Linked DNA regions of Homo sapiens: regions 2 and 3 are each linked to region 1. The links come from fine-mapping of genetic effects on gene expression. A gene starts in region 1. Each other region holds a variant in brackets. All regions are shown on one strand. Distances are from middle to middle. Region 1 holds the start of PDHA1 (pyruvate dehydrogenase E1 subunit alpha 1). Region 2 has its middle 100 kb from the start of ADGRG2. Region 3 overlaps MAP3K15 (mitogen-activated protein kinase kinase kinase 15).

Region 1 (2,760 bases):
TCTCTGGTTTTACTGTTCATCCAATTTTCTGTTCTCCTCCTGGCAGGAGGATTATATTTCACCTTGTGGAACTCAGACATGGTCGGGTAACTAGCTCTGGTCCGTGAAAATTGAGAGGAAGTGACATGTGTCACTTCTGGGCAGAAGCTTTGAGAGCCGGTTTAAATGATCCCTTTTCTCTTCATCCATGAGACAAGCTAAGTTCCAGAGAGAGGGTGCCACGCTGTGAGGGACCTGTGTTACGAGTACGATGGCTCGCGTCACTTCAAATTCTTGAAATCACTGAAATTTGGAGGTCAGTTGTTACATCATAACCCAGCCAATTCTAGTTAGCCTGTTTTCTTCCTAACTTCTTTAATCGTTCTTCATAAGTCACAATCGCAGCCCCTCACCGTTCTGACCACTGTCCCCTGGATTCCACTCAGTTTACTCATTATCCCCCTTAAAATGTGGAGCCCAAATCTGAACCCGGAACCCCAGGTGCAATCCCACTAGGACACAACACAATGGGTTCCTGAGCCCTTTGATCCTCTGAATAGAGCCCCTTGTTGCTTTGGTGTTTTGTCTCTGTGTGTGCTTTTATCATCGGCTGAGCCACGCTGTTAACTCGCAGTGAGCCTGTGAACCAATAACTAGAGAAAAAAGATTTTTCCCATTGTCCTCTCGACATATATTGGGAAACAAATTTTTTGATCCGCGTTCAAGTAGACAGGGCAGAACTGTCCAACTGCTACGTGATCTTTTAAAGACAAAGTTAGTGGCAGACCATTTACAGAAACCAGATGTTCTGTCTTTTGGCTCTGAGCATGCTGCTAATCTTCATCATCTAGTGTACTGAACGAGATGTACTGAACGAGGGCTGCAGAGCTGCAGCACCGGCAGGAGTAGGCGCTCGGTAGGACGGGGCCTGCACAACCTCCCCGGTAGTCAGCAGAGCGGAATCTAGGAAGGCTCCTTTCCCGCGGCGCCCTGGAGGCGGGGGCCCCACCTTCCCACGCAGGCGCTATCAAGCCCCGCCTCCTCACCCGCCCGCGGCGTGGCGTCGGAAAGAGCCCTCAGCCCCTCCCTCTCTGGCGCTGATACCCAATGGGCAGCCTCAGGCCTTTAGCGGGGGCGGGGCACCCCCTGGACGCCGTTCTGGTTGGCCCGCGGCCCGGCGCAGCGCATGACGTTATTACGACTCTGTCACGCCGCGGTGCGACTGAGGCGTGGCGTCTGCTGGGGCACCTGAAGGAGACTTGGGGGCACCCGCGTCGTGCCTCCTGGGTTGTGAGGAGTCGCCGCTGCCGCCACTGCCTGTGCTTCATGAGGAAGATGCTCGCCGCCGTCTCCCGCGTGCTGTCTGGCGCTTCTCAGAAGCCGGTGAGACCTCCCGGGCGGGCCGGGATGGGGCGCGAGTGGGGCTGAGGCGGGGCCGGAGGGCAGGGCGGGCCAGGCCGGGCCACCCAGAGCGGGGTGGAAGGCGCCAGGGGAGCCGGGGAGCCTTTACTTCGCCTCCGCGCCCTGCATTCCGTTCCTGGCCTCGGGAGAAGCGGCACGGACCGGGATCACGCCAAGGTCCGTGTGAACTTCCCCCTTCTCGACACCCACCTCCCGCCCCCGGGCCCAGCTGTGCGCCAGGCGAAGTCGGTGTGCTCAAGAGGTGCCTGTTGGGTTACAGGACACGGAAAGGGTGGCCTCGGCCTCCTTCGAGTCTCCAATTGACCCCACTCATTTCGGATCTTCTAACTTAATTTCTCTTGACCGAGAGGCTTTGTAATAGCGTAGAATCTGGAGACAGGGTGGCTTCGTTCAAACAGCACCCTCACCATTGACTAGCCCTGTGACCTTGAGCAAGTTTTTAAACGTCCCGGGGACCCGGTTTCCTAAAATGTTTGCTCGAAGTGGAGTTAATCTCTAAATGGAGATAAGAGTTATCTCTGAAATGTTATCAGTTAACTCTAAAATGGAGATAATAAGAGTCCCCACCTCTTGGGGTTGTCTTGAGGATTCAACGAGTGACACGTGTGGAAACGATTCCAAATAGCACCTGGCACATAATCGATAACATGTGTGTTGAATAGTGTTATTTATTGAGTCTCCAGTTCGGTATACATTTCTTGAACACCTGTGCTCAGTTCTGAGGCGGGTTCACAGAAGGTCAGCCTCTTCAGAAACAAACTTCCTCCTCTTCCCTCTCCCTCAACATCTGAGCTTTTCTTGGCAGTGAGTTCAGGAGCGCCGAAGCAGAACTCAGAGGACGCTGCCCTCCCCTCCCCTTACCTACACATTCTTAGGGTACAAGTAGCTAAAGCAAAGAGCAACGATGCTTGAGGGGTGGGGGGTAGAGTTTAGCACTATTTCATGGCCTCAGCATTTAGAGGTGCCTAACACCTGAGCTAGCATTCTGACCCCCCTAGGCACAGTGAGGTCGTGTTAATTGGTGTAACTGCAGGCCTCGGGATTCTGGTATTTCCCCCAGGACTTGATACCGCTCTACTTAGTACAGGCAGAGATTGTCAAAAGGTAAGAGGTATGCCCCTCTAGGAATCCTGTTGCCTAAAATAATGACAAAACTGCCGGGTGCGGTGGCTCAGGCCTGTAATCCCAGCATTTTGGGAGGCTGAGGCAGGTGGATCACCTGAGGTCAGAAGTTCGAGATCAGCCTGGCCAACATGGTGAAACCCCGTCTCTACTAAAAATACAAAATTAGCCGGTCGTGGTGGCGGGCTCCTGTAATCCCAGCTACTCGGGAGGCTGAGGCGGGAGAATAGCCTGAAC
Region 2 (2,760 bases), 120 kb before region 1:
GAAGGGTTTTTCCAATGTTATCTTCTAGAATTTTTATAGTTTCAGGTCTTAGGTTTAAGTCCTTAATCCATCTTGAGTTGATTTTTGTACAAGGTGAGAGATGAGGATCCAGTTTCATTCTCCTACATGTGGCTAGCCAATAGCCCCAGCACCAAAAGGGTGTCCTTTCCCCACGTTTTGTTTGTGTTTTCCCCACTTTATGTTTTGTTTGCTTTGTCAAAGATCAGTTGGCTGTAAGTACTTGGGTTTATTTCTGGGTTCTCTATTCTGTTCCATTGGTCTATGTACCTATTTCTATACCAGCACCATGCTGTTTTGGTGACAATGGCCTTATAGTATAGTTTGAAATCGGGTAGTGTGATGCCTCCAGATTTGTTCTTTTTGCTATGCGGGCTCTTTTTAGGTTCCATATGAATTATAGAATTGCTTTTTGTAATTCTGTGAAGAATGATGGTGGTATTCTGATGGAAATTGTGTTGAATTTGTAGATTGCTTTTGGCAGTATGGTCATTTTCACAATATTGATTCTACCCATCCATAAGCATGGGAGGGCGAGACAAGACCGCTTGAAAATTTGCCCAAGGCTATCTGCCTCCCAGCTTTGAGAGAAAAGGGCTTTAATTCTTCCCCCACCTGTGAAGTCTGCACTCTGGATTTGTGTCCTCCCCCAAGTTCTGGCCAGGAGGCTTCTCACCCCATTTAAATTGTTACAAAGTTCAGCTGGAGAATTCCTTCTCCCTGTGGAGTTTAACCACCTGCTCCTCTGGCCACCCTCCCAATGGATTCCTGTGGTACCAGGCAGGAATGGGCTGCCTGGGGACCCAGCGAGCTCCCAGGGCTATTCTGCTGCTTCCTCTACCCTTGTATTTCGCTCCGCTCTCTAACTTGACTCAGCCCCAGGTAAAGTAGGAAACTTCTCCCACAAACAGACCTTCTGCTTCTCCAGTGCGGGGGTGTGTTCGGCAGAGGAGGGTCTCCCTTTCCCACTTCCGCAGTTGGGGCACTCATAGTTTTGGGGGGTCTCCCGGGTCCTGCAGGAGCAGTTCACTTCATTCAAAGGGTCTGTGGGTCCTCCGGGGACCCACAGAACTGCTGCTTCGTTCTTGCAGTCAATCTGGAGCTAAAATTCACAGTGCAAGCCTCCACACGCTGCTCTATCTGGAGCTGCAATCTAGTCCTGCCTCCCATCCACCATGATCCCCTGAATCAGTTGTTTATATTTTTAACTACTGATCTATGGTTACATTCTTAATATGGTTCATTCTTGTCACTTTTCTTTCTTTGAATTAATCTTGTTATATGTTTGCCTATTTTGGATTTTTTAAGAACTAAATTTTGGCTTTGTCAACATTCCTTTGTCAACAGAAAAACATTCTGTTTTTCATTTCCTTATTTTGGTTATTATATTTATAATTTCTTCCTTTTACCTTCTTCGGGTTATCCTGTTCTTTTCTCACTACTGAAGTTGGATACTTAGCTCCTTATTTTACAAATGAAT[T/C]CTACTAAATAATAAAGGAACTAACAATTCTAATCACATACAAAGTATTCTAGATTATAGAAATAGAGGGAACACTTGCCAACTCATTTTGAGGTTAGCATAACCTCGATACTAAAACTTGACAGAGAGGATATGAGAGAACATGGCAAAGGAAAATTACAAGCCTAGTTTTCTCAGAAATATGTAGATGCAAAAATCCTAGACAAAATCTAGCAATATACAAAAATGACAAAAATGACCACGATGACTTTTCCTCAGCAGTTTAGGGTTTAATTGATTAGAAAATCAATTAATACAATTCTTCATAGTACCAAAATAAATAAGAAAGGGCACATGGTAATTTCTATAGATGCAGAAAAACATTTTTTGAGGACATTATCCATTAATTATAAAAATTCTTAGCAAGTTAAGAAGGAAATTTCCTTTGCTGGATATAGAGTATCTACAAAACTATACAGCAAATATCATAATTAATATTGAAACATTAAATGTATTCCCCCCTTAAAATCAGGAACAACAAAAAGTGGCAGCTATAACCACTTCTTTTCTTTTTTGTTTTGAGACAGGGTCTCACTCTGTGGCCCAGGCTCGAGTGCAGTGGTGCAATCACAGCTCACTGCAGCCTTGGCCTTCCGGCTCAAGTGATCCTCTCACCTCAGCCTCCCGAGTGGCTGGGACTGCAGGTGTGTGCCGCCACTTGGCTAATTTTTAAATTTTGTGTAGAGATGGGGTCTTGCTATATTGTCCAGGCTGAGCCACTTCTTTTCAACACAGGACTGCATATTCTAACCAGTACAGTAAGAAAAGAGAGAGAAACAAAAGGTATAAGGATTAAAAAGAAACAAAAATGTATTGGTCACAGACGACATTATGGTATGCATAGAAAGCTAAAAAAAAAAAACTAGAATTAATAAGAGAATTTAGTAGTTTTGCTGTAGCAAAAAAAAAATCAACCTACAAAAAGCAATTGCATTTATTTATTTATTCATTCATTTATTGAGATGGAGTCTCACTCTGGCACCCAGGTGGAGTGCAGTGGCGTGATCTCGGCCCACTGAAACCTTCACCTCCTGGGTTCAGGCAGTTCTCCTGCCTCAGCCTCCCAAGTAGCTGGGACTACAGGCATGTGCCATCACGCCCCACTAATTTTTTTTTTTTGTATTTTTAGTAAGACGGGGTTTCACCATGTTGGCCAGGCTGGTTTTGAACTCCTGATCTCAAGTGATCTGCCTGCCTCTGCCTCCCAAAGTGCTGGGATTACA
Region 3 (2,760 bases), 25 kb after region 1:
TTTCAGATGGAGTTTCTCTCATTGCCCAGGCTAGAGTGCAATGGCACGATCTCAGCTCACTGCAACCCCCACCTCCCGGATTCAATCGATTCTCCTGCCTCAGCTTCCCAAGCAGCTAAGATTACAGGCGTGCGCCACCATACCTGGCTAATTTTGTAGTTTTAGAAGAGATGGGGTTTCACCATGTTGGCCAGGCTGTCTCAAACTCTTGACCTTAAGTGATCCACTCACCTCGGCCTCTCAAAGTGTTGGGATTACAGGCGTGAGCCACCACGCCCATCCACTTCACAAATATTAAGCACCTACTATGTGCCAGGAAGTGAACAAAACAGACCAGTGCATTGGAGGAATATGATGGTGATGCCAGGGTTCCCTGGTTGGGAAGCTAGTCCACTAATGCCCGTCTAGGGATCATGACAAATCACATGGAAGAAATGACAACAGGACAAACTTCCTCGGGGTCGGGATTATGGGATGTACATCCACTGATGAAGTGCTAACCAACCCCCAAACCCTGCTACTTCTGCAGGGGCAGGCTGCTGAGCCTGCGAGACCCACACACCATGCCAGGGGCCCCGTCTTGGTGAAAAGAGAGAAAGAATTCACAGATGCTGCTGCCTTTAGTATGAGTAATTTCTGTGTGGTCTGGGGCAAGGTACTATATATACCTCTCTGATTCTGAGTTTTTTTTTTTTTTTTTTTAAAGGAAGGCATTCCTCTAGTCCCTCAATTGAGGCTGAGAATATGCGCCCTTGCCTAGTTCGTGGATGATGAAGCTGCTTTTTCCTAAGACCTGGGTGAGATGGTCAACAATAAAGCCAATTAATCAGCATCTTGGTGGCTCAGGCCACTGTCCCAGCGCCTGCTCCCAGAGGAGGGCCCAGAAGCTCCTCACCTGTTGGTCTCCTGTCTGAGCTCACCCAGCTGGAGGCTCAGGTGCTGCTGGTGGGGCTGGGCCTCCTGGCCAGGTCCGGTGGCTGGGGGATAGCCCTCTTCCGCTTCATCCATGTCCTTATCTACCCCTTCAGTCTCACAGGTAGGCTCAAAGTGGGCTCGGAGCTCTGCAAATCACACAAGACATGACAATGGTGAGCAAACCAGGCCAGTGGGGCCTGGGGTCGCAGACACCCAGGTCAGCAAACCGGGCTGTTCAGAAGCTGGCCCAGCCCGTGCCATGCTCCATTAGGGGACTGCTGACTTTACAAATGGAGAAGAGACTGTTCCATTTGGTTCTCTGCAGCGTAAAGTTGATCACGCCAGTTTCCACAGGAAGAAATTGAGGCTTAAGGATATGAAGTGAACCAAGGCCAGCGTTCAAAAGGTACAACCAGGCCAGGAGCAATGGCTTACACCTGTAATCCAAGCACTTTGGGAGGCTGAGGCAGGCAGATCACTTGAGGTCAGGAGTTTGAAACCAGCCCGGCCAACATGGTGAAACCCCATCTCTACTAAAAAATATATACAAAAATTAGCCAGGTCCAGGCGCAGTGGCTCACGCCTGTAATCCCATCACTTTGGGAGGCTGAGGCGGGCAGATCACAAGGTCAAGAGATCAAGACCATCCTGGCCAACATGGTGAAACCCCGTCTCTAC[T/TA]AAAAAAAATTAGCTGGGTGTGGTGGCGCGCACCTGTAGCCCCAGCTACTCCGGAGGCTGAGGCAGGAGAATTGCTTGAACCTGGGAGATGGAGGTTGCAGTGAGGCGAGATCGCATCATTGCACTCCAGCCTGGGTGACAGAGCAAGACTCTGTCTCAGAAAAAAAAAAAAAGAAAAGAAAGAAATAAGTAGAGCCAGGCTGCCACCCAAGCCTGTGCCGTTTTACTACAGAAGGTGTCTGCTTGGAGTGGGAGAGGAATTAAGCACTGGGGTTTCCCAAGCCTCTCCTGCAGCTGAGCCTGGGCTACACAGTGCATTCGGGAGGGTGGGCTGGAGCCAAACAGCAAGGAGCTGAAGGAAAGGGGGAAACCATGATGGCGACAGAATGGGCTGTAAAGCCTCCCTTAGCAGGAAGAAGTCACCAGAGAAGGAGAATCAACTTTGGTAACATTTCAAAAAGGAAATTGACAAAAACCAAAAACTTCTGTAACTACTACATGATGATTCAGAGAGAGGAATCTGAGCCACTGTATTGTCAGTTACCCAAGAAACATTCCTGAGTGCACGATGAAGGGGATACCAGAGGACTGGAGGATCCTTCCCCTCTGGCCCCATGCTCCCTTTTAATTTAATATTATTTATGTATTTGTTTATTTTTATTGAGACGGAATCTCACTCTGTTGCCCAGGCTGGAGTGCAGTGGCGTGATCTCGGCTCACTGCAACCTCCACCACCCGGGTTCAAGCGATTTTCCTGCCTCAGCCTCCCGAGTAGCTGGGATTACAGGCACGTGCCACCAAGCCTGGCTAATTTTTTGTATTTTTAGTAGAGACGGGGTTTCACTATGTTGGCCAGCCTGGTCTTGAACTCCTGACCTCAGCTGATCTGCCCACCTCGTCCTCCCAAAGTGCTGGGATTACAGGCATGAGCCACCGCGTCCGGCCCCATGCTCCCTTTTGAGATTGTGAGTTATAGTTTATGTGTAGTCACCTTCATCATGCTTCAGGGACACGTAAATACAGCACCACGAGATGCTCTCAGAACTACAGAATCAGCCCCGGAAGAAGTCTATGACAACATGCATTTAATTCCAAGGAAGTAGATAACCAAGATGGAAAAGAGAAAAGCAACAACTGTTGAATGAAGAGGATATTTCTTATCTTTTC

The links. PIP is the estimated chance that this variant, and not a neighbour inherited with it, causes the effect.
Region 2: its variant is the best candidate, but not a certain one, in a credible set for the expression of PDHA1 in lung (TOPMed, PIP 0.50).
Region 3: its variant is the best candidate, but not a certain one, in a credible set for the expression of PDHA1 in blood mononuclear cells (TOPMed, PIP 0.77).

The regions. Positions count from the first base shown.
Region 1 is chrX:19,342,733-19,345,492 of GRCh38, forward strand. It overlaps PDHA1 (pyruvate dehydrogenase E1 subunit alpha 1), which reads left to right and starts at 1,195. Exons shown (of 11, transcript NM_000284.4): 1 at 1,195-1,362. The coding sequence starts at 1,306.
Region 2 is chrX:19,221,212-19,223,971 of GRCh38, forward strand. No RefSeq gene overlaps it. Among named protein-coding and RNA genes, the nearest start is that of ADGRG2, 100 kb to the left of the region's middle. The variant T/C (reference allele first, on the strand shown) is at 1,499.
Region 3 is chrX:19,368,159-19,370,918 of GRCh38, forward strand. It overlaps MAP3K15 (mitogen-activated protein kinase kinase kinase 15), which reads right to left. Exons shown (of 29, transcript NM_001001671.4): 25 at 896-1,061. Among named protein-coding and RNA genes, the nearest start is that of PDHA1, 26 kb to the left of the region's middle. The variant T/TA (reference allele first, on the strand shown) is at 1,594.